Homo sapiens: one gene and its partners. The protein of the gene in region 7 purifies or fractionates together with the protein of the main gene of each other region. This does not show direct contact. Each region holds a gene or a part of one and is shown on either strand. Other genes may lie near its edges.

Region 1 (3,714 bases), on a different chromosome or scaffold from region 7:
TGCTACTGCACTCTAGTCTGGGCAACAGAGCGAGACTCTATCTAAAAAACAAAAGTGAAATTCTAATGGAAGAAATTTAAAAACATTATGCTAAGTGAGATAAGCCAGTCACAAAAAGCCAAATGTTGTATGATTCCATTTATATGAAGTAGCTAGAATAGGTAGATTCACAGAGAAAGTAGAGGTTACTGGGGGCTGGAGGAGGGGAGAATGGGAAGTTATTATTTATCTGTACAGTTTCTATTTGGAATGATGGAGAAAGTCGGGAAAAAGTGGGCACAACAATGTGAATGTACTTAATGTCATTGATTTGCATACTTAAAAACGGTTAAAATGATATATTTTATGTTATGCACATTTCACCACAGTAAAAAGATTTTTTTAAATTAAGTCAATGGCCAACACCTTGGAGAGAATAAATGAAATAGGGAGTTTTGGGATAGTTTCTATCAGTTTGCCAGTGAGATTTATGGTTTACACTTGGTCTCTGTGAAAACTCTCGGGGGGCTTTACTGTTACGTAGCAGGAATATGATTATGTGACCAAAAAAACAAAAATCCCTAGCTGAGATTCCATTTTGGAGTCTCTGATTCTGAGGTAGTCTGTTGCATGTGCCATGGACTGAATTGTGTTTCCCGCAGAATTAATGTGTTAAAGCTCTAATCTCTATGTCTTTAGGAGGTAGTTAAGGTTAAATTAGGTAATTAAGGGTGGGGCTCTAATTTGATAGGACCATGGCCTTGTAAAAAGGCCCTCTTTCACTGTCATGTAAGGACACAGCAAGAAAGCCGCCTTCTGTAAGCCGGGAGAGCCCTCACCAGAAATGGACCATGATGGCACCTTGATCTCGGACTTCCAGACTGCAAAATTATGAGACAATACATTTCTCTTGTTTAAGCCATGCAGACTGTGATATTTTGTAATGGCAGCCTGAGCAGAGTATGACAACACTGGTGATTCCTAATCTGTAAGAGAAAGATACATCCTGCCTGGCCCTCACCTAGGGAGGACCAGAGAAGCCTGCACCTGGCTTCTCTAGACTCCTTGCTTTGAGACAGCCATTGGCTGTGATATATATCCTTACTTTCATATTATGGTTATTTTTTACCCTTTTCCTATAATAAACTGCAGATCTGTAAGCATTGTCACTTTGGGTCCTGAGTCTTTCTTAGAACCAAACTGTTTAACTGACACTATTAGTGTAACTATAAGGAAAAGAAACAGTATTAATTTCTGTCGTTCTAAGGAGAAATAATTAAGATTGATGGGTAAAAGAACCATCTTAACAGAAGGCAGATTTACTTTGTCTTGCAAGGTATTAAGCAAGTCTCTAGGTATGTTCACTACACACTGGAGCAGAAGCTAGATGCCATTCTGCGGTGAGGAGACTGCTGCATTGGGTATACGACCTCAAGAGCTTACGATTTTTCCAATCTGGAAAAAACTTTTTCTTTTTTTCTTGTTTTTTTTTTTTTTTTTGAGATGGAGTCTCGCTCTGTCGCCCAGGCTGGAGTGCAGTGGCCCGATCTCGGCTCACTGCAAGCTCTGCCTCCCGGGTTCACACCATTCTCCTGCCTCAGCCTACCGAGTAGCTGGGACTACAGGAGCCCGCCACCATGCCCGGCTAATTTTTTATGTTTTTTTAGTAGAGACGGGGTTTCACCATGTTAGCCAGGATGGTCTCGATCTCCTGACCTCATGATCCACCTGCCTCGGCCTCCCAAAGTGCTTGGATTACAGGCGTGAGCCACCGCGCCCGGCTGGAAAAAACTTTTCAATAGGAATCATACCTGTGATGTCAGCTTCCCAGCAATCTGCATTCGTTCAATTTCTGCAGGAGACTTGATCAGCCGGAGGCGCTGTATCAGCTGCTGAACACCCCGAACCTTGTTCTTGCTCTTGGCTTTGGCCTCAGTCAGGGGCTGCATATAGTCAGAGTGAAGCTGTGCATGTGAGGGCCTCATCCAGTCATACCAAACCATGTTCGTCTCAGCTTAGAATGAGAAGCCGAAAAATAAATTTAAAACAAAACTACCAGCAACAAGAAATATCAACTGTCATAACGACTTGAACAAGAGTCAAAACTATAAAACCTGTAACGTGGAACTCTAAAGTGTTGAGACTTAAGACTCTCTCAGGACTGAAGCAATAAAGGTTTGATTATAAATCATTAGAAAGGTCATTCCCTGGAAATGGCAAGATATTCTAAGACTGAATATACAGCTTTTCTGCCCCTAAACTTCAGTGTTCTTTATAAAGGATGATACGGGACTAAAGCTTTAGTCAAGCTTTGATTTTCTCTCTTTCTCTCTCTCTTTATTTTTGAGATGGAGTCTTGCTCTGTTGCCCAGGCTGGAGTGCAGTGGCACAATCTCAGCTCACTGCAACCTCCGCCTCCCAGGTTCAAACGATTCTTCTGCCTCAGCCTCCCAAGTAGCTGGGACTACAGGTGCCCGCCACCATGCCCAGCTAATTTTTGTATTTTCAGTAGAGATGAGGTTTCACCATATTGGTCAGGCTGGTCTCGAACTCCTGACTTGTGATCCACCCGCCTCAGTCTCCCAAAGTGCTGAGATTACAGGCGTGAATCACCATGCCCGGCCTTCATTATTAAACAATTAGAACAACTGTTCTTCACCACCACTTACTGAGCTAGAGGCACTTGTTGAATAATTGCACACAGAAGGACAGAAAAACATACTCAGATCATGACTTTATGGGTAAAGTGTCCCATCCTTTCACATAATGATCTCAGTACTAGAGGAAAGGGTTCTCCTCCCATTCTGGAGCAATTATTCATTGCTATGGAAAAACTACAGTTGATATTTCCTCACTTCTCCCTTTGCATCTGCTATACATTCTCTTTGTAAACAATCACAGTTCAGCTTTCAACTTTAGAGACCTAAGGAAATGGTCTGTATTTGCCTAAGATATACGATATAAAGGCTCATTATAAAAATGATTTGCACTTAATATCAGATCTACATTTGTTCTTTTTTTCTAACAGTAGGCTACAAACAGTATTCCTAACAATCCAAGTGAGAAGGTCTGAATATTTTATATGACTAAAAAGTACTTTGGGGAAAGTAGAGGGGAAAAAATCCAGAAAACTTTGATTGGATATGCACTGATTCTATGATTCTATGTCCTATGTGATTCTATGTCCTACATATTTTCATTTTTAAAATAAAAATGGTTCTAAATATATACTACATGGGAAACACCTTCCTACTTACGATAGATGGAAATTTAATTGTCGTGTAATTTTTTTTTTTTTTGAGACGTAGTCTTGCTCTGTCACCCAGGCTGGAGTGCAGTGGCGCGATCTCGGCTCACTGCAACCTCCACCTCCCTGGTTCAAGCAATTCCCCTGCCTCAACCTCCCAAGTAGCTGGGATTACAGGCGCATGCCACCACGTCCAGCTAATTTTTTCGTATTTTTAGTAGAGACGGGGTTTCACCATGTTGTCCAGACTGGTCTCGAACTCCTGATCTCAGGCAATCCACCTCCCTTGGCCTCCCGAAGTGCTGGGATTACAGGCGTGAGCCACTGCACCCGGCCAATTGTTGTAATTTTTAAAAAGTAAAACAATCTCTACTACACGTTCAAAGTGTATGAAATCATAGCTCACTTTTTTAAAGGTTTTTAAACCTTTCAATAAATATGATTTTAGCCAGGCACGGTGGCTCACGCCTGTAATCCCAGCACCCTGG
Region 2 (4,171 bases), on a different chromosome or scaffold from region 7:
ACTGTCTAAGACTATACAGAAAGATCATGTATCTGAGGAATTAAAAATAGGGCATAAGATTTGGCAATGTGTCACTCGGCAAACTCAATAAACTAGTATTATCAAGGCAAAAAATATATACACAAAAAGAACTGGGTTAAAAAAAATTTTTTCTATGGACTTTTAACGTGATAACTCATGACACAGGGGTTAGGATCTTCAGTTTTCCTTTGGAAGTTAATAAAAACCACTATAGAGAAAAACAAGATTTGCTAGTAAGAAGGTGAAAACTGCTTCTCCTCTCAGGGTTCTAGTTCTCTTGCAACCTAAAACAAAGGAACCAGACAGGATATCCACTTTCGTACCGTACAGCTCCAAACACTAATCAATCACTCCATTCACTTATCTTTTCTATTTCCTTGTATTCTGTCAAACAACTGTCTCTTGGTTTAAATACTTTTCTGCTGGTCTTCGCTCTCTCTCTCTCCTCTTCTGGTTTATTTTCATCCAGATGTGGATTTTCCCCAAAGTTTCCATCTTATCCTTTTCTCCTCCTGTGTATGCGCCACTGAAGTCAAGATTGCCACATTCAAACTCCCCACACATTCACACACCCACTCCCAATATACAGTATCTCGCCCAATGTTTATCACTCCGGATACATTCCTAGAATCCAAAGATCTGGAGCAGGGAGAAAAAGAAAAGGCGCCTACCAGATGCCTGGAACAGTCTACTAGGCACTACAAGTACATTAGCTCTTTCAATGCTCACAACAGCCCAGCCAGATGTTATCTCAATCTTACGGATGAATAAATTTAAGACTTCTGGCTGGACACTAGAGGCTGGCGAAGTACGTGACCTTTGATCAGAATCTCCTGGAGGAGTGGGGTCCCTGACCATTGTACCTTCCAGAGAACCTTAAAACTGAGATCCCAGGAGACCCCTCTCGGATACTCTGCAGAAGTCAGAGTGACGATATTAGCAAGCACACCGCAGCCATGCGAACCCTTCCTGGCTCAGCTCCCGACAAAAGAAATCAAGCCCCCAGTCAAAATACAACAACAACGGATTAGGCCTACAACCCTCTCCCCCGGCCCCCAAATTCTCAGGAGAAATCCCCTAAGAGTCAGGTACGGAGGTCACTGCAGCGACTTCAGCGTGCAGAGAACGCGGGGACCTAGGAAGAGGACGCTCCAGCCCAACTGAGCGTCTCTGATTGGCCGCCAGCTCAGCTTGGAACGCTGGGGTGCGTGGCGTCATATCCGCCGGGCCCGCCATCTTGTTCCCAGGGGCAGTTGGCGGAAGAGATCGAGCTCCCTGGCTGCCGGCTCGCCTTCTGCGTGGAGTTCTCGCGGTCTGGGTTTCGCTGTCTGCTCTTGGCCCGGGGTCATTTTGTCGGCGTCGGGTGCCCTCTCTTGCCCAGCTGGGGCACAGCGAGGCGGCCCCTTCTCCCGACGACGTTCGATGGAGTAGGGTCCCAGACCGTTGTCCCGAAGAGCGAGATCGAGCTTGGCCCCCTCCCCCCCCTCCTTCCCTCCCTCCTTCCTTCCGCCGCAACATGGCTAACAACAGCCCCGCGCTGACAGGCAACTCGCAGCCGCAGCACCAGGCGGCTGCAGCTGCGGCTCAGCAACAGCAGCAGTGCGGCGGCGGCGGCGCTACCAAGCCGGCGGTCTCCGGCAAGCAGGGCAATGTGCTCCCGCTCTGGGGCAACGAGAAGACCATGAACCTCAACCCCATGATCCTGACCAACATCCTGTCGTCGCCTTACTTCAAAGTACAGCTCTACGAGCTCAAGACCTACCACGAGGTGGTGGACGAGATCTACTTTAAGGTACGAAGTGTGTAGGCCTTGGCTTTGGGGGTAAGTTCGGAAGAGGGGGTATGGAGGAAACGGGCGAAGGCGGCCCCCGAAATCTGAAGATTTGTGGGTGGGGGAAGGTGGTTCGGCGGAGGGGTGGCTGCGGCCTGTAGTGTGTCTGGGAGGGGTCGGACTGGGGCCGCCCTCTCGTTTCCATTTTAGATTTTTAGGGCCGGGAGAGCCCGCCACTATTGATCTCTCTCCTCCCCCAACCTCCTGCCCACCCCTGGGGGGAGTTGGGCAAGAGGGATGGGGGAGAGGAGGAAAGAGTAACAGAAGCCTTTCCAGTTTACAGCTTTAAAATTATTCCTTTTGACGTGGATCTGCTGAGCGCCAACTTGTTGGTGCTTCTCCCGCTCACCCCTGGCCAGGGCGTGTAATGACTTCAGTATTGGCCTCGTGTTGTTGGTACTCACTATCCGATCCAGGCAGGGAAATGGTCAGTGCGTGTGTGTCGGGTGGGGTGGGGGGATGAGGGTGGAGAGGTGCCATTTCAAGAGGTGTACAGAAGGCCTGGAAATTTTCCCAGCAGGAAGTCAGGAGTAAGAGGTCTCAGCCACCTGTGCATTGGGCTAATTTAGAATTATCTGGGCCCTGGGCTTCTGCGGCAGGGTCGGTGCTGGCTTGGCTGTGCTGGGGAGCTCACCTGGCGCCTCCTCACTGCACTCTTGTCTCAGTTCTTGTTTCGTTAGCAGGATTGACTCAGTCTTGCAGCGAGGCTCGGAGCAGCCCAGGGTCGCAGGTAGAGGTATGCACTATTAATCATGCTCAATCGCCATAAATGCATTTCCCTGGTTAAATGAACGACTAATTAGATTTTTGTGGGTTTTTTTGGCCATTGCTTTTGGTCCTTCACCAATTAGGTAGGCTTTTTCCACTTCCCTGCAAATTATGTAGTATAAAAAATACCTTCCAGGCCTCCGAAAGTTAATTTCTATTTTAAAGAATATTAATAATAGCCTTAGTGGTCTTTAAAAATTTTATCCGGAGCATCTAATACACAATCCATTTTTGTCTATATTCACTCTTAAAAACTTGACAGACCGCACAAAGTGTTTTCTATCATTTGAACGTATGTGTAGAGATGGTAACAAAAGGACATTCTCTTTTGTCTTGCCCACCTTTTCCCCCAGTTGAGTAATTAGGTTATTGAAGGATTTTGAGAGATTAGTTGCTTTTTATAGAAAACATCTCTTGAATACAGTTCAACTTTGGGTTGATAAAGTACACAAATAAATTTGGAATCCTCTTACGAGAGTAGGTCTGATTGTAATTCTATGAATTAGTTTTTTTAGCTTTTAAAAGGTAAGACCTTTTTAGCATGGATACAGTATGGTGAATAACATTTAATCCTTAGCTTTATTTATGCAGTAAACTTTAAACAGTTGAAAATTGGGTTCCTGCTCTTTCTGCGGCAGGTTCTGTTTTCTAACATAGGCAAAATGTTAATGTAATAGAGGAAAGTCTCGTTTTTAAGTTTCAAATGTGTTTTGAAACAAGATTCTACCAGGAATTGTTTTTAAATTCCGTTAAAAAACTAAAGACCCAGTTTTTTTACTAATATTAAGAAGACTTAAGACTTTCAGATCAAATACTCACTGAAATTTATAAGTTTCCAACTTTGTAATTTTATTTTGTATGCATCCAGCCCTGCCTTTGGCTAGCTTTTAAGGAATTGAAACATCTTTTACATGGCAATCTGTGGGGAAGAAAGGAAACGTTAAAGCACTGCAAAATAGTGTAGTGCTTAAACTTACATGCACGCTTTTCTATCTAAAGCCATTGTTCAGGACTACAAAATTTACCATGTGGGTGGAAATAGAATTTTAGAAATATGCAGTGAAAAAACAGGATTTTTTTTTATGTTTTTAAAAAAAAACAAAGATGGGTCTTCCCAAAAGACCTTTTTGGATTCTATTTTAGAGTTAATATTCTTTTGTTGTTGTTGCTGTTGTTGTTGCTATTTTTAGATAAGGACTAGTTTTTGTAAGATGTTCCTCTTAGCAAATATGATACTGTATCATCTTTGATGATACTTAGTATATGCCAGTGACTATTCACACTCAGTTTTTGACACAATTTATATTCTGGGGAATAATTGGATTGGTTCACACATAATTAGGCTGAAGCTTAATTACAACAATGATCTCTGTAAGTGTGGCCTTTGTAATTTTATCTTTAATCAGGAATAAACCTGACCCTGGTGGAAAAAATGTACAAATAAAAAGTTCCATAATTTTGCATCACAAGTAACTCGTTACTGTTTTAGAAAATTTTCTTCAAGTAATTTTCCTTAATTTTATAATGTAGATTTTAAATTACAATAAAATT
Region 3 (3,714 bases), on a different chromosome or scaffold from region 7:
AGCCCTCTCACATTGGGAACCTCTATCACCCTCAACCCCGGGCTTTGCTCACAGGTGACCCTCCGACTGGACACCCACCCTGCCATGGTCACCGTGCTGGAGATGGGGGCTGCCCGCCACTTCCTGCGCATGCAGCAGCTGGCCAAGACCCAGGAGGAGCGCGCACAGCTCCTGCAGCCCACGCTGGAGATCAACCCCAGGTGAGGCCACGCTCCTGGCTCTTCCAGCCTGTGGGATTCCCCAGAATCCTGTGTGTGGTGTTCTTTTGTTGTGGAATGTGACACAGAAGAAAAGTGCGTGAGGCCTGTGGACATGTGGGTAACTATAAGGAGCTGTATGCAGTTTAGGCTGCACCCATGTGAAATGGAACCTGGCCAGCCCCTTACCATCCCCAGGTGTCACCTGGGAGGTTAGCCACATCCCAGCCTGTGACCATGTCCTCGTTTTGCTTTATGGCTTTGCCACCTGTGCGTGTCCTGGACATGCTCAGTTTTGCCTGTTTTGAGCTTTGTACGTGGATCTTGGTGTTTGCTGAAGTCTCACGTTGCTCACTTGGCATGAGGGTTGCCCATGCAGAGGGGCTGCCACAAGTTCATTTTCATAGCCGAATAATGTCCGCTGCAGAAACCCACCTCGGCACAGCAGACTGCTCCGTTCTGCTCTGCTGGGCCTCCGGTGGTTCTTGGTCAGAAGTTGTGGAGAGCCAGGCTGCTCTGAGTATTCTTGTCCACGTGTCTGGGGCTTGTGTGGGTTTCTCTGTGGCCCCGGTGGTGGGAGCTGCTTCCAGGGTGCACCGAGAACCCCCCAGCCCTGACAGTGGCTGAGCCGTAAGATTTCCCTCGTTTCTTCCTGTTGTTCTTTATATGCCCTTTATCTGTTGTAAATGTCTTTTCACCTGCCTTTAGGTATCTTTTGAGTTTCTTTCTTTTTACAGTATCACTTCTTTGCACCCATGAATGTGATCTATTTAGGTCTTTAACATCCTTTGGTACCTTACATTCTCTGTAGGGTTCTGGTACCATTTTTAAAGAATTATTCTTTGATGTGTCTTATGGGGTATTTTAAAATTTCATTTTCTAACTTGTATATGAACTAACTTGTATATGAAGTTTCTTTTTTGGGGGAAATTTTGAATGTAGCAATTTTTTAAAAAATGAAGTTACATAAACATGTTACCAAAAATAGAAAACAGCAAAAAGGAAATCAAAATCCATAGACTTACCACCCCCCCCACAATGTAGCCTAAGTAGTATTTTAATTTTTGAGACAGGGTCTCACTCTGTCCCCCAGGTTGGAGTGCAGTGGGGCAATCTCAGCTCACTGCAACTTCTACCTCCTGGCCTCAAACAATCCACCTGCCTTAGCCTCCCGAAGTGCTGGGATTACAAGTGTGGGCTACCACCCCCAGCCAGTTTTTGTTTTGTTCTTTAGTACATGTCTAGTTTTTTTCTTTTGTCATTTTACAACCATAACTTTTAAAATTATACTGGAGGCGAGGGAGATGCATCTTCCTAGCCATGGCACTCCTGGGGAAAGGCTGACTTGGCTTATGGCTGTCAGTGCACAGCAGCGCCAGTATGCAGAATGCCTGTGCCTCTGCTGGAGCAGCTCAGTGAGGCGGACACCAGGTCACTTTAACTAGTTTTGGTGGCAAACTAGTTTTGTGAGATAGCTGCAGAAGTGCTCGTTTCTGTCTGTTGCCACTTCACTTTTGGAGACAGGGTCTTGCTCTGTCACCTAGGCTGGAGTGTACCAGTGGCGCCATCAGAGCTCACTGCAGCCTTGGCCTCCCAAAGTGGTGGGATTACAGGCGAGAGCCACTGTGCCCAGCCAGCTTCACTTTCATTTGTTTTAAAATTTGGTGTTCTGTCCACATAGTTCAGAATTCAAAACTGCTTACAGGGGAAAATTTCCTCCTACCTGTGTCCCCAGTGCAGCCAGCATTAGGGCTTTTGTATTTCTGCAGAGATTATGTGCATTTGTGGGCAGCTGCGCCCGTGGGCTTCCAAGGGGGAACTTGCTGTGCAGTGGGTCCTTGCCTTGCTTTTCTCCCTTAGGGTAACTAGGTGACCTCCACATTAGCATATTAAGAATGTCCTTTTTTTCCAGCTACGTAGACTAGAAATGTGAGGATGTGCATTTGAAGTGTTTCCTCTGTTAGGTTGGGTGCGGTGCCTCACGCCTGTAATCCCAACATTTTGGGAGGCCTAGGCGGGTGGATCACTTGAGGTCAGGAGTTCGAGACCTCATCTCTACTAAAAATACAAAAACTAGCTGGGGGTGGTGGTGGGTGCCTGTAATCCCAGTTACTTGGGAGGCTGAGGCAAGAGAACCTCTTGAAACCAGGAGGCTGCGGTGAGCCAAGATCATGCCATTTCACTCTAGCTTGGGTGAAGGAGTGAGAGTCTATCTATCTATCTATCTATCTATCTATCTAAAAAAAAAAGTGTTTAAAGGGATGCAGTTAGGAAATGGAATGGCTGAGTCTCAGCATATCATCCACATGTGGTTTTCCCGACTCCAGTTGTCCTCTGGAGAGGTTGTACAAATTTACAGTTCCCCAGAGCCCTCGGTTTTATCAGACTTCTAAGTGAAAAATTATAATATTCATGTTAAGGTTAAATACTACATGATGCTTTTTCCTATGCAGAAAAAAATATTGTTCTGACGTCAAATATGTCAATCATTCTTTACTTTTTGGTTTGTGGTTTTGCTTGGAAAGGCTTTCCCCTTCTGAGATGATGAAACATTTCTTCCCTAGAATTGTGCTTGTCATCTTTGATCCCTCTGGAATTTACTCTGGTCTAAATGGTTTTCTGCATGGCTCCCAGTCATCCCAGTGCTGCTGGATGGAGTGATCTGTCTCCTCCCTCTTCTGTGAAATACTGTCCTCATCAGACACTCAGTGTCCACCCTCGTTACATGGAGTTGTTTGCCTTCCCCCTTTCCAGACCTAAACTGTTTTATTTACTAGAGCCCTATAATATGTTTCAACATGTGGGTCTTACTCCCTTCTCTTTTATTATTTATCTAGGAACCAAGGCATGTCTTCACGTACTAAGCTCCTTTTGTCCCTTTAGTGTATATTAATCTTGGAGTTTGGCTACCTTACAGCATTTTCTAATACTGACACTCCTGATTCTCTTGGGTTTTCTGGGTATATAATGATATTATCTATAAATGATCATTAACATACCTTATTTAAAAAACTACAGACAGTCTTACTGTGCTTCTTTAAATATCCTGATAATCCCAAAACATGAAGGGAGGGTCACAGCACGTGGTACTGAGCTGCTTTTTCTGGTGGGTTCTGTGTTGCAGGCACGCGCTCATCAAGAAGCTGAATCAGCTGCGCGCAAGCGAGCCTGGCCTGGCTCAGCTGCTGGTGGATCAGGTGAGTGCAGCAGCTTAGGATGACTGCAGGGACCCAGGCTACCAGCCCTGCCAGCCTGCCTTCAGGGTGGAACAGCGGTTTCCTCTAAAATCCTGTCTTTTTGTTTGTTTGTTTGTTTTTTGAGATGGAGTGTTGCTCTGTTGCCAGGCTGGAGTGCAGTGGCGCGATCTTGGCTCACTACAACCTCTGCCTCCCGGGTTCAAGCAATTCCCCTGCCTCAGCCTCCCGAGTAGCTGGGACTACAGGCATGCGCCTGGCTAATTTTGTATTTTAGTAGAGATGGGGTTTTCACCATCTTGGCCAGGATGGTCTCAATCTCC
Region 4 (3,714 bases), on a different chromosome or scaffold from region 7:
TCCACATATCTACAGCCAACTGATTTTTGACAAAGGCTCCAAGAACACTCATTGGGAAAGGGCAGACTCTTCAATAAATAGTGCTGGGAAAATTGGATAACCATAGGCAGAAAACTGAAACTAGACTCCCCCACCTCTCTGCCTATACAACAATACACTCAAAATGGATCAGACTTACATGTAAGACACAAGACTATAAATCTATTAGAAGAAAACATAGAGTAAATGCTTCAGGACACTGGTTTGGGAAAAGGCTTTATGAATAAGACCTCAAAAACACAGGCAACAAAAGCAAAAGTAAACAAATGGGACTATATCAAACTAAACAGCTTATGCACAGCAAAGGAAACAATCAACAATGTGAAAAGTCTACCTAGAGAATGGGAGAAAATATTTGCAAAGTATTCATACAACAGGGAATTAATATCCAGAATATACAAAGAACTCAAAACAGCCAAAAAAAAACCCATTTCAAAAATTGGCAAATTAGCTGAATAGACATTTCAAAAGAAGACATGCAAACGGCCAACAAATATATGAAAACATATTCAACATCATTAATCATCAGGGATATGCAAATCAAAACCACGAAGAGATATCATTTCACCCCAGTTAGGATGGCTATTATAAAAAAGATAAAAATTAACAAATGCAGGTGATGATGCATAGAAAAGGGAACTCTTATACACTTTAAGTAGTGAACTAGTACAGCCACTATGGAGAACAGTATGGAGGTTCCTCAAAAAACAAGCATGCATAATTTTTATGATTATAATAGAAATATGATTTGACTTTCCAAAGAAAAGTATTTTTCAAACAATAAAGAAATTGGAGGGAAGTTGTTTTCCATAATTTATGAGACAGGAAAAGGCAATGTGGCAAGTTTGATTATGCTTAATTCAAGCAACAGATTCTGATAAGAATAAAAGTAACTGGGTTATTAGGGTAGCCATTTTATGAGATAGAGTACTGTTTATTAAAATAAGCTCTGGTACTCTGATCTATATTTTCCTTTAAATGCTCATTATATGTAAAGCAATTTTGCAATACTTATCTAAAATACTGTCCTTTAGAAAGAAAATACTAATGAAATGAAAGGGTTAAATAAACAGACATTTTAATTTAATATTAAATGTGGATCATCATTAGATTTCAAAATTTTTCTTCTGAAGACTCTGTGTGTCCTCCTAACTATTAATAGTTTGTGAGGTGTTACTATTTAGAAGTTGGTTGGTAAAACACCAATTCTTTAAAACCTGAAAATTTAGTAAACTAATGTAATTTGTTGCATGACAATTACACATTAGTAAATCAGGCACAATTAAGAGACAACTGTTAAATAAAATTAGAGTGCAATTAAAGGCTAAAAATGAATTTTATTTGAACAGCAAGTAAAAATGGTACTGCTGGCTGAACGCGGTGGCTCACTCCTGTAATCCCAGCACTTTGGGAGGCCGAGGCAGGTGGATCACTTGAAGTCAGGAGTTCGAGGCCAACTGACCAACATGGTTAAACCCCGTCTCTATCAAAAATACAAAAATTAGCTGGGCATGGTGGTGAACGCCTGTAATCCCAGCTATTTGGGAGGCTGAGGCAGGAGAATGGCTTGAACCCGGGAGATGGAGGTTGCAGTGAGCCGAGATCACACCATTGCACTCCAGCATGGGCAACAAGAGCAAAACTTTGTCTCAAAAAAAGAAAAAATGGTACTGCTGTAAGGAAGCCAGTTCATTTGTTTAAGAAGTTAATTAGTACAGTACTAAATGTATTCTTGTGCAGAGCAATACTCTGAGCAAGGACAGAGGATTATAAATAAGAAAATATCTTGGTCCTTTTCCTAGGTAAATTTAAAATATACATAGGAAAAGAACATGTGTGTGTACACACAATAAATGACCTATGTGGTTCTGTTATAATGTTTATCATAAAGCTCACAAAAATGTAATACACTCCAAGCAAATAAGCTCTGAAGGAAAGAAAGAGTTAAAGAACTATGTTCCACTGGGTAACTATTCCTGGAGAAGATAAGTTTAGTAAAAACTGTTTGGACATGCACTATGTTATCAGAATTTTACATGTATTATGTCATTTCAAGCTCACCATTGCTCTGTGAGATGGGTACTATTATTATCCCCATTCTACAGATGAGGAAATTGAGGCATAGAGAGTTAAGAAATGTGCCCAAGGTCACTGGAGGGTAAAGGACACAGCTTGTACTTATACACTGGTTTGATTCAAGACAGTGAAGTATCACTAAAAATTTGGGATTAGGGCAAGGATATAAGTGTTTTCAGAAAGACCTTTCAAAGAACTATGTATAGCATATCTGAGAGGCTAAGGGGCAGTTTGGGGGCTGCTACAAGCAGATTGGTCAGATAGTCTAATCATTTATGTAATTCTCTTGTCATGTCATATTTAATCTTTCTTACAAAGAAGGCTAAACACATTCTCATGATGTAGATAATGAAACAGTTTTAATTAAGGTATCCAGTTACCTCTAAACAAACAAAAAAATGCTTATTCTTTTAGATAGACAAATGCTGCTTATAAGAGAAGACAGACAAAAGTGGTCAATATTATAATTTTAAAATTTTGTTTACACCTGTTTTAAGACAGTTGCTAAATCAAAGTAATGAATCTAGAGAATGTAGGCCTCTATTTCTTCTTTCTCTGACAAGCAGATTTTTTAACCAAAAGCAACAATTAGTTCATTGACATCTTGTTTGTTTACTCACTTCTTAGAGAATTGTGAAGTGTTAGCTATCATCACCTTGAAAGTATCAATACTAGATTTGCTGAAGCATTAGTCTATACTACTTACTAAACATATACTTTCATAGAAACATCTGCCAGAATGGAGAACAACTACTTTTTTTCTGAGAGGAGGTACCTAATGAAATTAATTAAATATATTTGGATAGTCTGGAAAAAAATCAGCAGAAAATGTCACTTTGGGCTTCCTCCATTTTGTCCAAATAAATTGCAAAATGGGGAAATAGCCATTGCAAAGATAGATAGATAGATAGATAGATAGACAGAATATATCTAAGATATCATATAAGATATATACATATATATCATATGCACATAAGATATATCTATATATATTGTAAACATTGTCCATTTTTCAAAGTCTTTGGATTTTTTCTTCCTTTATAGTAAAATTAAATAAAATACTTTCAAACTTGCAATAAAAAGGCTTGCTTTATTTGAATTGTAGGATGGAAATTCTTCAGATGAGTACTACAGGCAAAAAATTCCTGATTACCCTTGTAAAAGTATTCTTCCGTGATGTGGTTTTACATTTTTGAAAAATGTACGCTGTTTGTACATTCAAAACTAGCATTAGCAACAAAAGCAAAAATAGACAAAAGGCATCACATCAAACTAAAAAGTTTTTGCACAATAAAGGAAGTAAATGAGTAAAGAGGCAACGTATGGAATGGCAGAATATATTTGCAAACCAAACATATGATAAGGAGTTAAATATTCAAAATATATAAGGAACTCAAACAACTCAGTAATTTTAAAAAACATAATTTTTTAAAATGAGTAAAAGATCTGAAGAGATGTTTTTCAAAAGGCATACAAATCGCCAATAGGTATATGAAAAAATACTTGACATCACTAATCATCAGGTAAATGCAAATTAAAAACATAATGAGATATCATCTCATGCCTGTTAGGACAGCTATTATCAAAAAGACGAAAGGT
Region 5 (4,491 bases), about 23 Mb from region 7:
TCATGACCAGAAGAAATGTCATTATCGTAAAATTTAGATTCTGGAGTCTATATATGAAAGCAATACTAACTACTAACTGTTATAACAACAAAATGTGGGATGTATATCTACAGACCACAGCCACCTTGCCAGTTCATTCAAGAATCGAACCCTGGATTTAGCAGTTTCTGCACAAAGGGAATGAAATATTTTTAATTGATAATTCAGTCAAAAATATTAATGAAGATCCATATGATTGAAAGAATAAATTTATTCAATTGGCTCCAATGTAATCCTATTGTCACCAGATCATTGACACCAAATTGTTATTTTTCCCTTTGCTAGTAAAGGTATAAGCAGAAACAATTGCAAAAGAACACATAACATCTAGTAGGGATAATGATGAAAGCCAAAAATGGATTATTTGAAAATAATTTTGGAAGTAAAAAAACCATAGGTGTGAGGAAAAAAGAGAGAAACTACAAATAAACTGCATTGTGATAAAACAATAAAGCACATAGCTAAAAGCCTATTAAGGATTTTTTAAAAATTATATTTTGAGAAACACTTGGTGCTAATAATTTTCTCAAAAGTACAAATATCCAAAAGTCATACAGAAAATAAAACAACCTACTTTCCATCAAAAGTTTCTAATTTTATTCTGAGAAAAGATAACACCAAGAAAACAATTTTAACTACAGAAACAATGGTTAGCGTAAAAAATTAATAATCAAAAAGATAAACCATGTTATAAGTACTTAACAAACTTATAAACTATTTCTTCCATAACATTCTCCATATTTTAAGTTCATACATGTTGATATGATCAGATTTACAATTTTTCAGAAAAGACGGGGGAAAAGGTGTGATTATCGTCAGCTAGATGTGCTCACTGCATGCTCCATTATTTATCTGCAAGGCCTGGGTGACTGGAAGTGCAGTTGACAGGCATTTTAATAAACTGGACAGCCATTTGTTCTTCAGGACAAGGCGTGTTTTCCCCAGGAGCAATCAGAAGAAAACAGGAAGCAGCTCAGCACTCTGCACTGCAACAGGCCACCTTAATAGCTAACCAGCATCACTCAACTGCTACGCAGCCGGGCCTGGTGCACAAAAACACAAAAGAGATTAGACCTGTGTTTGCTAAAACCCCAGTCCTTTCACATGAAAAATCTTTATACAAATTTGGGTCACACTACCTTTTAGACCTGGAGGTAAATAAAATTATCCATATTAATTTACACCACCTTTTGTAGGTTTTTAAGGAATGAAGGCAATGTTGAAGCATGTCTTGACAGCGTTAGGCTGTGTGTAATGGCTGCACACGTTTCCTTAAAAGTCAGGAGGCCACAAATTAGGTTACCAATCTGTTCATTTCAAACCAAAACAGTCATCACTATAGAAATAAAAATAAATTTTTGCCTCAAATATCCAAACCCAATAACGTAATCTTAGGTCGTTCACCTCCTAAGTTACAATAAAATGTGAATAACAACAAAACGGCACATAGAATGAATTTTGCCACCTGATGCAAAGCTTCAAACTGGCAAAAAGGTAGAAAAGTGTGACACAACCTTTTCAATAGGCAGCCTCTTCTTCCAGGGACGTTGCTTCCATAGACTGAGTATGTGATCCTTTTCCCCCAAGTCCTCCATCACGTTGCTTCCTGATGCATCATTTTCTTAAGAGGACATCTGTCCTTCCTCTTCAGGAGACTTGGGGGGCCTCTTGGATCGCGACCTTGACTTGGATTTCCTCTTGGATACCCGGGGAGGACTCCTGGTCATAGATGAAGACCTGGACCGCGAGCGAGACCTGGAGACCGAGGAGGACTTGGATCGTCGCGCAGAGCTCGATTTGGAGGTTGATGCAGAGCGAGAGCTAGTGGAGGACCCAGACTTCGAGTGAGACCGGCTGCTGTGATATCGGCTGTAGCGAGAGTTACTGTAACCAGATGAGCTGTAGTGAGATCCGCCGTAGCGAGATTCCCTGTAGCGAGATCTGCTGTAGGGAGAGCGGCTGTAGCGCGACCGGCTGTAAGGAGATCGGCTGTAGGGAGACCGGCTATAGCGAGAACCCCTATAGCGAGATCGGCTGCGGGACCTGGAGCAGCTGGGACCCCGGGATCGGCTGCGGTGTCGCCGCCTGGGGCTGCGGCTCCGCCGCCCGTAGCTGCGGCTCCGCCGTCCGTAGCCGCCGCCTCTGGACCTGCCGCGTGGCTCTCCCTGGCGGCTGCGGGGCAGGTCCCGGCGGCCATAGCGCGCCACCTGCACCCGCAGCTCGCGTCCGTCCAGCTCCGCCCCGTCCATGGCGGCCTCGGCGTCTTGGGCGTCGCGCCGGTCGTGAAAGCGGACGAAAGCGAAGCCCCGGGGCGCCTTGGTGTGGGGCTCCCGCGGGATGTACACGTCGCCCACGCGCCCGTACTTCTCGAACACGCGCCTCAAGCTGTCGGGAGAGGTGCGGTAGGTCAGGTTGTCCACCTTGAGGGTGATCATGCCGTCCACGTCGGGAGGGGGGCGGCCGCAGCTCATGGCTCCGAGAGCAGCCCGGGCCCGGAAACTGGCGCTGCTCTGGGCGCTGACGGTGCGACCTGCGTTTCTTTCTCGCGGTTGCGCCCCGCGTGGGGACGCCGGGAAAGGCCGGGCGGAGAGGCGGGCGGCGGAGCTCCGCAGGGAGCGCCCTGGAGCAGCAACTTCCGAGTTCCCAATTTCAGGCCAAATACTCCAGGACCCAGAGGAAGGTTTCCTTTTGGTAGCTGAACTCCAAATGAAGCCAGGCCCCGAAGATCCTGGCCTTGTACCTGGGCAACATCCTAACCTAATCAGCGCCCAGCTAATGTAATCACTGGGCTGGATTTACATTAGACGTCCCACCCTCCCATGCTCCTCCCTATTATTCTACGTTTTAAACCAATCTTAAGAACAAAGCTAACTGATTAAAGGTCAATTTATGGGAACAGGCAATCCAGACAAATATTAAACAAAAGAAACCTAGGGCAACAATATTAATATCCAGTGTATTGATAGGATCAAAGGAGCACATTTCATAGTTATTGAAAAGAAAATTCACTAGGAAAACATTACAGTGATGAACTTAACGCACCTAAACACATAACAGTGACACATAGCCAAGACTGAGAGTTATAAGGTAAAACTGAAAAATCTGCACTCATGATGGAAGTTTGTTTTTTCCCCGTAACACCGTTTTCTCAGAAATCAATAGTGCAGAGAACAAAACTAGTAATGCTATAATAATTTGCACAACAAACAACAATTTTGATCATATAACCTGCAACAACCAAAAATATATAGAAAACAGAAGAATTTCCCAATACAAGACTACAAAATAAATGTCAATTAAAATTTAATAGGTCAATAAATTCAGCACATCTGGACCTCAGTGAAATAATATTGAAGGTTAAAAATAAAAAACCTGAATCCAATCATATTTACTTGAAAATTAATAACCACATTTCTAAAACTTTTTTTATGTTGAAGTCAAGCAATTAGTAAAACAAAACCAAAACAAAAAATAAAACATTAAAATAAAAATAGAATTACAAATAAAAGGGACAATATGTTTTTTTAAAAAGATGATTAATAAAACTGAAATCTAACACTTTTAAAGAAAAAAACAATCTAGCAATACTGATGAAGAAATACAGTTTCTAAATCTGGAAAGGAAATATACAGAAAGGGCCTAGAGCATCTTGGAGTGCTGGAAAATAAGGATGTGATAAATAGAAAACAAACAAAAGCATTGATGGGGTAATTTTAGAGGGGTACAAAAACCAATAAAACAGCTCCCAATGGCCAAATCTTGAACAATTTAAGGAACAAACTAAAATACTACTATATCATATTCCAAAATATAAAATAAATATTAATCTGTGCTGTTGTAAATAAATGATTAAATAAATTAACACATTGGAGAAAAGAGAGAAAACTCCTCTGCAGGAGAATTCTAAATTAATTAAATTAATTAAAACGTTGCTGATTTTGAAAATGTTATGTAACCTTATATACATAGAATTGTGCTTTTTATATTTTAATGTATTTTGTGTTTTATTTCCCTCATCTATGTGTTCCATGTAGCTGTACTTGATCCTGTTACCTTGCCGTAAGGCATTCAATGGTATAAATGTTTGTGCTGTTGATGGGCACTTGGGTTGTTTCCACTTTTGGCCTCTTACAGTGTTGCTCAGAACATGCTTGGACATGTATACTGGAGCTCATGTGTCCTCTTAGGTATGAATGGATCCCTTGTCACAGAATACAGGCAGCCCACTGTAACCTCTGGCTTCAGCATCAGTGAATTCAGCCAACTGTGGGTAGAAATTATTCAGAAAAAAAAAACAATAAAAATAAATAGAACATAATACAGTAAACAATTATTTACATAGCATTTTCATCATAATGTAAGTAATCTAGAGATGACTTAAAGTATGTTGGAAAATACGTATAGGTTACATGCTCATACCAAGCCATTTTATATATGGACTTGAAAATCCTC
Region 6 (4,514 bases), on a different chromosome or scaffold from region 7:
GGCACTTCAGCTCGTCTGGGTAGTCAGCTGTGAGGATCAGGAAGAGATCAAAGAAAGTAGAAATGTGGGTGAGGCCAGAGAAGGAGACAATAATCTGGGATGGAACATTGAAGAGGAACACTGCCTCTGGAGAGGACTCCAAAACGTAAGTTCTGGCAAGGGACTCTGGCTTTTAGTTTCCAGAATGATCATTGTTGAACCCCTCCCAAGACGTGATCACAGCAAGTTCTCCATTTGTCCTATCTCTTGATTTTAGGAGCCAAGTCCTTGAGACTTTGCATCTCTCTGGTGCCCAGTGCAGAGACTGTGTGTAATGGGCACTAGAAATGTGTCTTAAGCCGGGAGGCAAGAGGATTCAAATAAAGGGGCATGCTTCGTTCTGGAAATTGTGAGGATGGGGGGAAGTAGAAGGACAAAGGGTCCCACTCACCACCAAAGCTCAGAGTGTTGCCCCAGCCGGAGATGAGGCACTCAGTGCCAGCAGCTGGAGGGGTGGTGGGCAGAGAGATGGTGGACACGCGGGCATTGATGACGGCAGGTGAGGAGAGTTTGATCAGCATGATGTCATTGTCCAGAGTGTCCCTGTTGTATTTAGGGTGGCGGATGATCTTGGCCGCATTGATGAACTGCTCATTCCCCTCCAGGACTTTGATGTTGTGCTCTCCCAGTCTCACCTGGATGCGGCTGATGGGCAGGGCAGGCATGGTGAAGACCTTCTCCCACAGCCTGGGCACCCCTCCCACCTTCCCCAGGGTCCTCAAGCTCACTGCTCATGGATAGCTCTGGAGGCATGGGGTGGGGTGTGTGGCCATATTGCATGGGCAGGAGAGGGATGTGGGTCAGTGCAGGTGTGAGACCCAGGACCTTTCTGCTTCAGAGGCTGGTGGTAGTGGGGTGGGGAAGAGTCAAAGGGATCCCACCAGAGGCTGCTCCTCAACCTGCCTTCCCAGCCTCTTTCCCACAAATCTCCACAGTCACTAGCACTGTGGGCACAAAGAGCTCCTCGTAGTTTTCCCAGCATTCTTCACCCCAGGTCTTTGCTAACTGCGCACAGCGCCTGTTCCTCCCTCCCTTCTTGGCCTAGTGAGCACCACCCTTCTGTGTAATCTAATCCAAGGGTAGCCATAGCATTAGCATCTCCTGGGAACTTGTTAGAAATGTAAATTCTTGGTCCTTACCCCCACCCGCTGATCAGAACCTTGGGGATGGGACCCAGTGATTTGTGCTTTAATAAGCCTGCAGGTGGTTTTGACGCATACTCAGGTTTGAGAGTTCTTCGTGTAGGCAGCGGTTCTCAGCTCTGTCTATACACTCTACAGTTACCAGAGGTAGAGTGTTAAATACTCACTGGTATTCACACTGTCTTCCTGAGAAGTTTGAGTTAATTGCCCTGGGGTAGGACACAGGCATCAGTATTTTCAAAAACTCTGTCTTAGGTCGCTTTAATGTGTAGCTAACCAGCAAAAGGTACTTGCCTGCTTTTGTCACTAGCTCTGACAACTCCAAGATTATCCCTGCCTGCTTTTATGACCACAACCCTTGCTGTTTCATGGATTGGCCTTGCTCTGGAGAGTCAGCTGCTGTCAACAAGTTTTCTTTTCCACCACCTCTCCCATCCGTCTTACCCAACCTCAGTACTTCCCTGGGCTGAAGCCAAGCTCTCCCAGGCAGCCTGGCTGGGAGCTTTGCAGTCAGGGGCCCCACACTTACGTCTTGTAGCAGTGAGCTGCTGATACCACCCACTGTTCGCTGATGAGGGAGCCACCGCAGAAGTGGGAGCCAGAATTCAGGGACACCTGGTAGGGGAGAGAATTCTCCTCACAGGTGTAGCCCCCAACAATCTTGTCATCATCGTCAAAGGGGACAGCAACTGGAGTGGAAATAGGAAGGGAGAAGGCAAGTCAGTAGCATGTTAGGGGTGGTGCTCCCAGCCTGCGGTTGCTTCCTGCCAATTAGAAATCCTTAACAAGCCCAGTGAGGCCAGGCAAGGGAGGGAGCGCTGCCACCCCTGGTGAGCATCACTGGATGTGGCTCCCAAGTCTCTGTGTCTGCAGGGCACGTAGCTAGGTACCCTGCAGGGGCTCAGATCTCTCCTGGGGACACCAGGCTGAGGATGCAAGGAATGTCCTCAAAATGCTTCCAGTGGGGTAGCAGTTGGTATGTTGTTGTCTCACCCACTGAGTGCTTCTCTCTTTTATTCATCACCTGTGTACTTGCCCTGGCTATTTGAGCCCTGGATTGTCAGGATACTTTGGCTAAGCTAGGAAAACCCCCTGTCTGGGTAGACCTGGCCATGACTAGCTTCCCCCATAGCTCAGATCTGTGCAGTGAGGGCAGAGTTGAGGGCAGCCCCAGGCTCACTTTGGCATAACAAAGGTAGACTTTGTTATTGGCCAATAGAAGAGCAATTCTTAACTTTGGCGGCATGCCTGGAAACGTTAAAAATCACCTGGGAAGCTTAAAAGCCCAGTACACAGGCTGCACCCCAGACAAATGAAGTTAGAACTTCTAGAGTTGAATCTCTGGCATGAGTAATTTTTGAACCTCCCCAGGTGCATTCGAGGTTAAGAGCAGCTATAGTGGTGCTATACTGGTGCTCTTGGAGCCAAGCCTGAAGCCTGCCACTTCATTTCATGGGCCAGCCCCACCTGGTCTCCCTTCCCAGCTTCTCCAACCACAGCTCGGATATGGATGAATGACAGTGGTGGGAGTGAAATGAGGGAAAAGGTGAAACAGGTGAGGCTTAAAGAGAGCCCAAGGAGGATGGGAAGGAGATATGTCAGATGGAGGAAATAGAATATCAGAGCGCAGTCAAAAGAGGAGAGGTGGCAAGAATGGCAGGGCATGTGTCTGCCAGGAAAGGGGGTGGGTGGGGCCTGAGGCAGGTCATGAAACTCGCCAGCAGCTCCCACAAAGGCAAGGATCAGGAATGGATTCATGGTGGTAGAGTGTGCCTGACTGGTGGTGGAAGGCCTGTCCTTATACCCTTCCAAGAATCAGGAGAGGAGGTGTCTGTGAGGTGAGGGTCACAGTTCTTCCCAGCACAAACACACCTGCAGCTTTCCCCTTGCCAGGGTCTTGCATCAGCTCGGCTACGTTTGGCCACTCTGTGGGTTTGTGATTCACAGGTGATAAGGAAACTTGCCTTCTGAGAGCAGAGAGGGAGACTGGCTATTTCCTGGAAGGATGCTGGGATGGGGAAGACAGGGGAAACCAATCCCCGGATCACACAGCTGGGCTTTCGTAGGCCGAGGAGATGAGGGTTAGAAGGAGGGAGAATGGCCTGGGTGTCTAGGAGTCCTTTTAACTATTGGGGATGTATTTAATAATGTACTTAAGGAAGGGCAAGCATTGGTAACAAGCTTGGCTTTTCAGTTTCCTGGAGCCCCCACGAGAGGAGGAAAGTCTTATCTAAGGCTCATTTTTGTGAATATGAATATGCTTCTTTGCAGTCACTGTGCACAAAGGTCAAATCCAAGACTTTGGGTATCCAGAATTCCAACACTAAGGGGTAAGGAGAAGGGAGACTTAGCATTCCATAGGATTCTGGGCTTCCAGATGGCTCTCCTTCCTACCAAGGCTTAAAAGGATGGGAAGTGTTTCAAAGAAGGAGGGGACACAGGTTAGGTAGGAGCTTACTCAGTGCATCTGGAGGATGGAAAACCAATGGCGCACTCCTCCCCTTCTTCAATGTGAAGCCACTTGTCTCTCTCATGTGCATCCTGTCATAGGTTCTTTTTATGCAGCCTCACGGTTGTCCTGGCAACCTGCACTTAGGGTGATGCAAACTGACTCACCTGCTCAGGGCTGACAGCCTGAACCAGAATGACATGCCCCTGATCAGATGTCAGAGTTTGGACCATGGTAAATCTGGGTTACCATCTGATCTGAGAATCAGCAGTAGGTAGAGATTTTAGCACATGGTAAATGGGTCACATATTGGGATCAATAAGAAGATGTGGAGGGGTGGGTCTAGAATTTTCTATTTTAGATGCAGTGAGATTATGCTGGGCTTAGTATCAAGTGAATCTTCCCAGAGAATATCCTGATTTGGGCCCTACCAAGGCTACTAAGACACAGTTGTGTAATTGACTGAGGCACAACCTGGCCAGAGTAGTGTGGAGATGGAGATGCTGTCTGTGATCAAGTCTAATGATGTAAGGAAAGGAGGAGCTTCCTTATGAGGGTGCTTTCCCTTCTCAGCAACTCTGAGCTCAGGTTGGTGATGGGCAGGAGTGAGCAGAGTTCAAGTTTAAATTCTTTGAAAAGTAAAAGAAGCAGAGATGTTCTGGAGATGGTGAACAAAATGAGAAAAGCTCAGAAACTTCGTGTTGAGATCGGACATGGCCAGGGGGCTAGAGGGAGGAAGCAAATGGAAACCAGAGGGAATTGGAAAAAATGCGAATGTGGGGCCCGTGGAGTTGAGAGGACACACAGAGTACCTTCAGGTTCAGCTCCTGGCATGGCCAACGAGCCAGCTTCCCCAAAGCCAGGAGATCCACTGCTCAGAGACC
Region 7 (4,182 bases):
GCTGGGTGGGAATTCAATTCCAGGCTTATATGAGCCCTGCTGTGCAGTCGGCCTGGAGACAGCCCAGCTCAGGCCCTGCCTAGACCCCTGTCAAGGAGGCCCTGTCAAGAGGAGAGGAGGGGCAGCACGGGGGCAAGGCAAGCTTGTGAGCGGGAAAGGCATGTCCACTTTAGCGACTGGTATGTGGAAGATGAGTTAGAGGAGACAGATGGAGAGAAGTCATAGGAAATAAATTCTGAGCATTTTAGGAGGGCCCAGACACCTGGTGTCCAGTGGAGTGAAGGAAACAGTCGCCTCCCAAAATTCAGTGTCTGAGGTCAAAGGATTGAAGTTCTGTGATGACCAAGGAGAAGCCAGCTCTGTGGTAGGGGGCACAGGAGCTCCCCAAGGCCCCAGGGCTGTCCAGCTGGCTGTCCCCTGCCAGCACCCATGTCCTGTGACCCCACCCCACCAAGATCCCATGGTTTCCGGGAAGGGCCTACTAAACTAGCTTGAGTGATGAGGCTAGAAAGGGGCTGGGACCAAGGTTTAAAAAGCAAAACAAACTAACAAAAACCACACTGCAGCCCCCCCAACTAAAACATTTTTATAAACTTTTTTTTTTTTTTTGAGATGGAGTCTCGCTCTGTCACCCAGGCTAGAGTGCAATGGCACAATCTTGGCTCACTGTAACCTCCACCTCCTGGATTCAAGTGATTCTCCTGCCTCAGCCTCCCACGTAGCTGGGACTACAGGCACACGACACCGCACCCAGCTCATTTTGTATTTTTAGTAGAGACAGGGTTTCACTATGTTGGCCAGGCTGGTCTCAAACTTCTGACCTCAGGTGATCCACCCACCTCAGCCTTCCAAAGTGCTGGGATTACAGGCATGAGCCACCGCGCCCAGCCCATTTTTGTAAACTTTTACAATGAAGTAATTTGGTGTCAAAATCTGACCTGAAAATTAATGTGAGTTTATGTATAGTTTTAATTTATCCCACTAGTGTAACTGTTTCACCCCAGAATATACACTTGATTATTGGGTATATGAAAATTATATTTTCTTTGAATCACCTTTGATGAAATCCTAAAAAATTTTAACCCTGAAACATTTGAATAAGGCATTGTGGACCTATGGCAAACTCCTGGCTATTTCTGCATTTTGCCCAAATCCATCCTTGAATTATATCACCTGAACCTCGTGACCACCTGGAGAAGGCAATGAGGCTCAAGCCAGGGAGGGGTGGTGTCTAATCCTACCTTTCATTGGATCTGGGAAAACTGAGGGAGATGGGGGCAGGGCTCTATCTGCCCCAGGCTTCCGTCCAGGCCCCACCCTCCTGGAGCCCTGCACACAACTTAAGGCCCCACCTCCGCATTCCTTGGTGCCACTGACCACAGCTCTTTCTTCAGGGACAGACATGGCTCAGCGGATGACAACACAGCTGCTGCTCCTTCTAGTGTGGGTGGCTGTAGTAGGGGAGGCTCAGACAAGGATTGCATGGGCCAGGACTGAGCTTCTCAATGTCTGCATGAACGCCAAGCACCACAAGGAAAAGCCAGGCCCCGAGGACAAGTTGCATGAGCAGGTGGGCCAGGGGGTGATCTGGGGTGGTGAGGGACTGGCTCAGGAAGAGGAAACGAGGACATGGAAATGCCAAACCCCATTCACTGGTGAACTGAAGTGGAGGAGCCCTTCAGTTTGCATTAATATGGGTGACTATTTCACAGACACTGTGCCAAATGTCGGTACAATGCCAACAGTTCACCTTCTTGGTTGTTGAGTTTCCGCATTACAGAAATAAGGAAGCAGGCCCAAAGGAGAGCCTGGGAAATGAAGTTGGAGTGACCCATCCTGGGGTTGCTTGATTTAGGGATTTAGACTGGGAATGACTCCTCCAAAGATCTGAGGGAAGAAACTGCACACTGTGCATAGTGGCCTCTTTTCTGCCAGCCCTAAACAGCTCAAGAAGGGAGAGTCTCTCACATTATGAGGCTGTGTGCAAAGCATTCTTTTTTTTTTTTCCTGAGACAAAGTCTCCATATGTTGCCCAGGCTGGTCTCAAATTCCTGGACTCAAGTGATCCTCCCACCTCAGCCTCCCAAAGTGTGGGATTACAGAAATGAGCCGTACGCCCTCCTGAAGCATCTTGGTTCATGCATCTCGCAAAACTTTGGGCTGTGTCTCTCGACCACATTGGACCTGAGGTCTCCCTATAACATTTATTTTGCTACCACCCCTTTAATATCCTGAACATGATGATATAACTAAAGAAAAAGCAGAGGAAAAGTAATTTGTAGGCCAGGTGTTACGGCTCACGCCTGTAATCCCAACACTGTGGGATGTCGAGATGGGCAGATCACTTGAGCTCAGGAGTTCGAGACCAGCCTGGGCAAGATGGCAAAACCCCATCTCTACTAAAAAATAAAAAAAATTAGTCAGGTGTGGTGGCACATGCCTGCAGTCCCAGCTACTCAGGAGGCTGAGGTGGGCAGGTCAGTTGAGCCCAGGAGGCAGAGATTGTAGATCGTGCCACTGCACTCCAGCCTGGGCAACAGAGTGAGACCTTGTCAAAAGAAAGAAAGAACGAAAAAAAGAAAGAAAGGAAGGAAGGAAGGGGAGGAAGGAAAGGGAGGGAGGAAAGGGAGGGAGGAAAGGGAGGGAGGCAAGGGAGAGAAACTTGTAATACGCATTTCTTTTTTTTTTTCTTGAGATAGAGTTTTGCTCTTGTTGCCCAGGGTGGAGTGCAGTGGCACAATCTCAGCTCACTGCAACCTCCACCTCCCAGGTTCAAGTGATTCTCCTGCCTCAGCCTCCTGAGTAGGCACACGCCACCACACCCAGCTAATTTTTTGTTTGTTTGTTTGTTTTGTTTGTTGGTATTTTTAGTAGAGATGGGGGTTTCACCATGTTGGCCAGGCTGGTCTCGAACTCCTCACCTCATAATCCGCCCCTCTTGGCCTCCCAAAGTGCTGAGATTACAGGTGTGAGCCACTGCGCCCGGCCTTAAGTGCACATTTTATTTATTTATTTATTTATTTATTTATTGAGATGGAGTCTTGCTCTGTTGCCCAGGCTGGAGTGCAGTGGCACAATCTCAGCTCACTGCAACCTCCACCTCCCAGGTTCAAGCAATTCTCCTGCCTTGGCCTCCAGAGTAGCTGGGACTATAGGCACCTGCCACCATGCCTAGCTAATTTTTGTATTTTTAGTAGAAATGGGGTTTTGCCATGTTGGCCAGGCTGGTCTCCATTCTTGACCTTAAGTGATCTGTCCACCTCCACCTCCCAAAGTGCTGGGATTACAGGCACTATGTGAGCCACTGTGCCGGCCCACATTTTAATATTTAGCTTGTCAGCCTTAAGTAATGAGATTCAGGAAGCTTGAGGATAGGCACACAGGAGCATAGTTTCAAGTTGTCCTGAATTTTGCAGCCATCACAAGTTAGTTTTTAAGGAAAAAGATTAGTTCCTAAGTTGTTTCTCAATAACTTATAATAAAATAACATCCACAATTGATTGGCTATACATTGTTTTTTTGTATCACAAATTCCACAAACAGATAATGGGTGAGGCAGCTAGTCAGGGACAAAACACTTCCCAAGTAGCTGGGATTACAGGTGTCCGCCACCACACTTGGCTAGTTTTTTGTTTGTTTATTTTTTGAGATGGAGTCTTGCTCTGTCGCCCAGGCTGGAGTGCAGTGGCATGATCTCGGCTCACTGCAAGCTCCACCTGCCGGGTTCACACCATTCTCCTGCCTCAGCCTCCCAAGTAGCTGGGACTACAGGTGCCAGCCACCACGCCCGGCTAATTTTTTGTATTTTTAGTAGAGACGGGGTTTCACCATGTTGGCCAGGATGGTCTTGATCTCTTAGCCTCGTGATCCACCCGCCTCGGCCTCCCAAAATGCTGGGATTACAGGCGTGAGCCACCGCACCCGGCCTAATTTTTATATTTTTAGTAGAGACGGGGTTTCACCATGTTGGCCAGGCTGGTCTCAAACTCTTGATCTCAGGTGATCCACCTGCCTTGGCCTCCCAAAGTGCTGGGATTACACAAGTAAGCCACTGCACCCAGCCTGGGGTTACAATTTAAATTGCTTTTTTACCTTCAAATCTTTGACACCTCAGTGAGGCTTAATCTGACCGCACTATTACACTACAAGTCCCCATCCGTCTCTGCTTAATTTTTGTCCAAA

The links.
Region 1: the proteins of FOLR1 (region 7) and XPNPEP3 purify together in Homo sapiens (affinity purification with mass spectrometry, with the first as the bait; one study listed by BioGRID). This does not show direct contact.
Region 2: the proteins of FOLR1 (region 7) and PRPF38B purify together in Homo sapiens (affinity purification with mass spectrometry, with the first as the bait; one study listed by BioGRID). This does not show direct contact.
Region 3: the proteins of FOLR1 (region 7) and TRAP1 purify together in Homo sapiens (affinity purification with mass spectrometry, with the first as the bait; one study listed by BioGRID). This does not show direct contact.
Region 4: the proteins of FOLR1 (region 7) and FAM133A purify together in Homo sapiens (affinity purification with mass spectrometry, with the first as the bait; one study listed by BioGRID). This does not show direct contact.
Region 5: the proteins of FOLR1 (region 7) and SRSF8 purify together in Homo sapiens (affinity purification with mass spectrometry, with the first as the bait; one study listed by BioGRID). This does not show direct contact.
Region 6: the proteins of FOLR1 (region 7) and PRSS3 purify together in Homo sapiens (affinity purification with mass spectrometry, with the first as the bait; one study listed by BioGRID). This does not show direct contact.

Annotation. Positions count from the first base shown.
Region 1 is NC_000022.11:40,884,592-40,888,305, reverse strand, and holds part of XPNPEP3 (xaa-Pro aminopeptidase 3), read right to left. Parts: intron 1,994-3,714; coding exon 1,791-1,993; intron 1-1,790. UniProt on the Homo sapiens protein: Catalyzes the removal of a penultimate prolyl residue from the N-termini of peptides, such as Leu-Pro-Ala. Also shows low activity towards peptides with Ala or Ser at the P1 position.
Region 2 is NC_000001.11:108,691,055-108,695,225, forward strand, and holds the start of PRPF38B (pre-mRNA-splicing factor 38B), read left to right. Parts: upstream 1-1,255; 5' UTR 1,256-1,537; coding exon 1,538-1,813; intron 1,814-2,535; exon of another isoform or gene 2,536-2,588; intron 2,589-4,171. UniProt on the Homo sapiens protein: May be required for pre-mRNA splicing.
Region 3 is NC_000016.10:3,658,473-3,662,186, reverse strand, and holds part of TRAP1 (heat shock protein 75 kDa, mitochondrial isoform 1 precursor), read left to right. Parts: intron 1-54; coding exon 55-200; intron 201-3,321; coding exon 3,322-3,394; intron 3,395-3,714.
Region 4 is NC_000023.11:93,680,609-93,684,322, reverse strand, and holds part of FAM133A (protein FAM133A), read right to left. Parts: intron 1-3,714.
Region 5 is NC_000011.10:95,065,246-95,069,736, reverse strand, and holds the start of SRSF8 (serine/arginine-rich splicing factor 8), read right to left. Parts: upstream 2,819-4,491; 5' UTR 2,511-2,818; coding exon 1,662-2,510; 3' UTR 1-1,661. UniProt on the Homo sapiens protein: Involved in pre-mRNA alternative splicing.
Region 6 is NC_000009.12:33,793,999-33,798,512, reverse strand, and holds the start of PRSS3 (trypsin-3 isoform 2 preproprotein), read right to left. Parts: upstream 2,953-4,514; 5' UTR 2,940-2,952; coding exon 2,900-2,939; intron 1,871-2,899; coding exon 1,711-1,870; intron 685-1,710; coding exon 431-684; intron 146-430; exon of another isoform or gene 28-145; coding exon 1-27. UniProt on the Homo sapiens protein: Digestive protease that cleaves proteins preferentially after an Arg residue and has proteolytic activity toward Kunitz-type trypsin inhibitors.
Region 7 is NC_000011.10:72,190,772-72,194,953, forward strand, and holds the start of FOLR1 (folate receptor alpha precursor), read left to right. Parts: upstream 1-1,368; 5' UTR 1,369-1,402; coding exon 1,403-1,570; intron 1,571-4,182. UniProt on the Homo sapiens protein: Binds to folate and reduced folic acid derivatives and mediates delivery of 5-methyltetrahydrofolate and folate analogs into the interior of cells. Has high affinity for folate and folic acid analogs at neutral pH.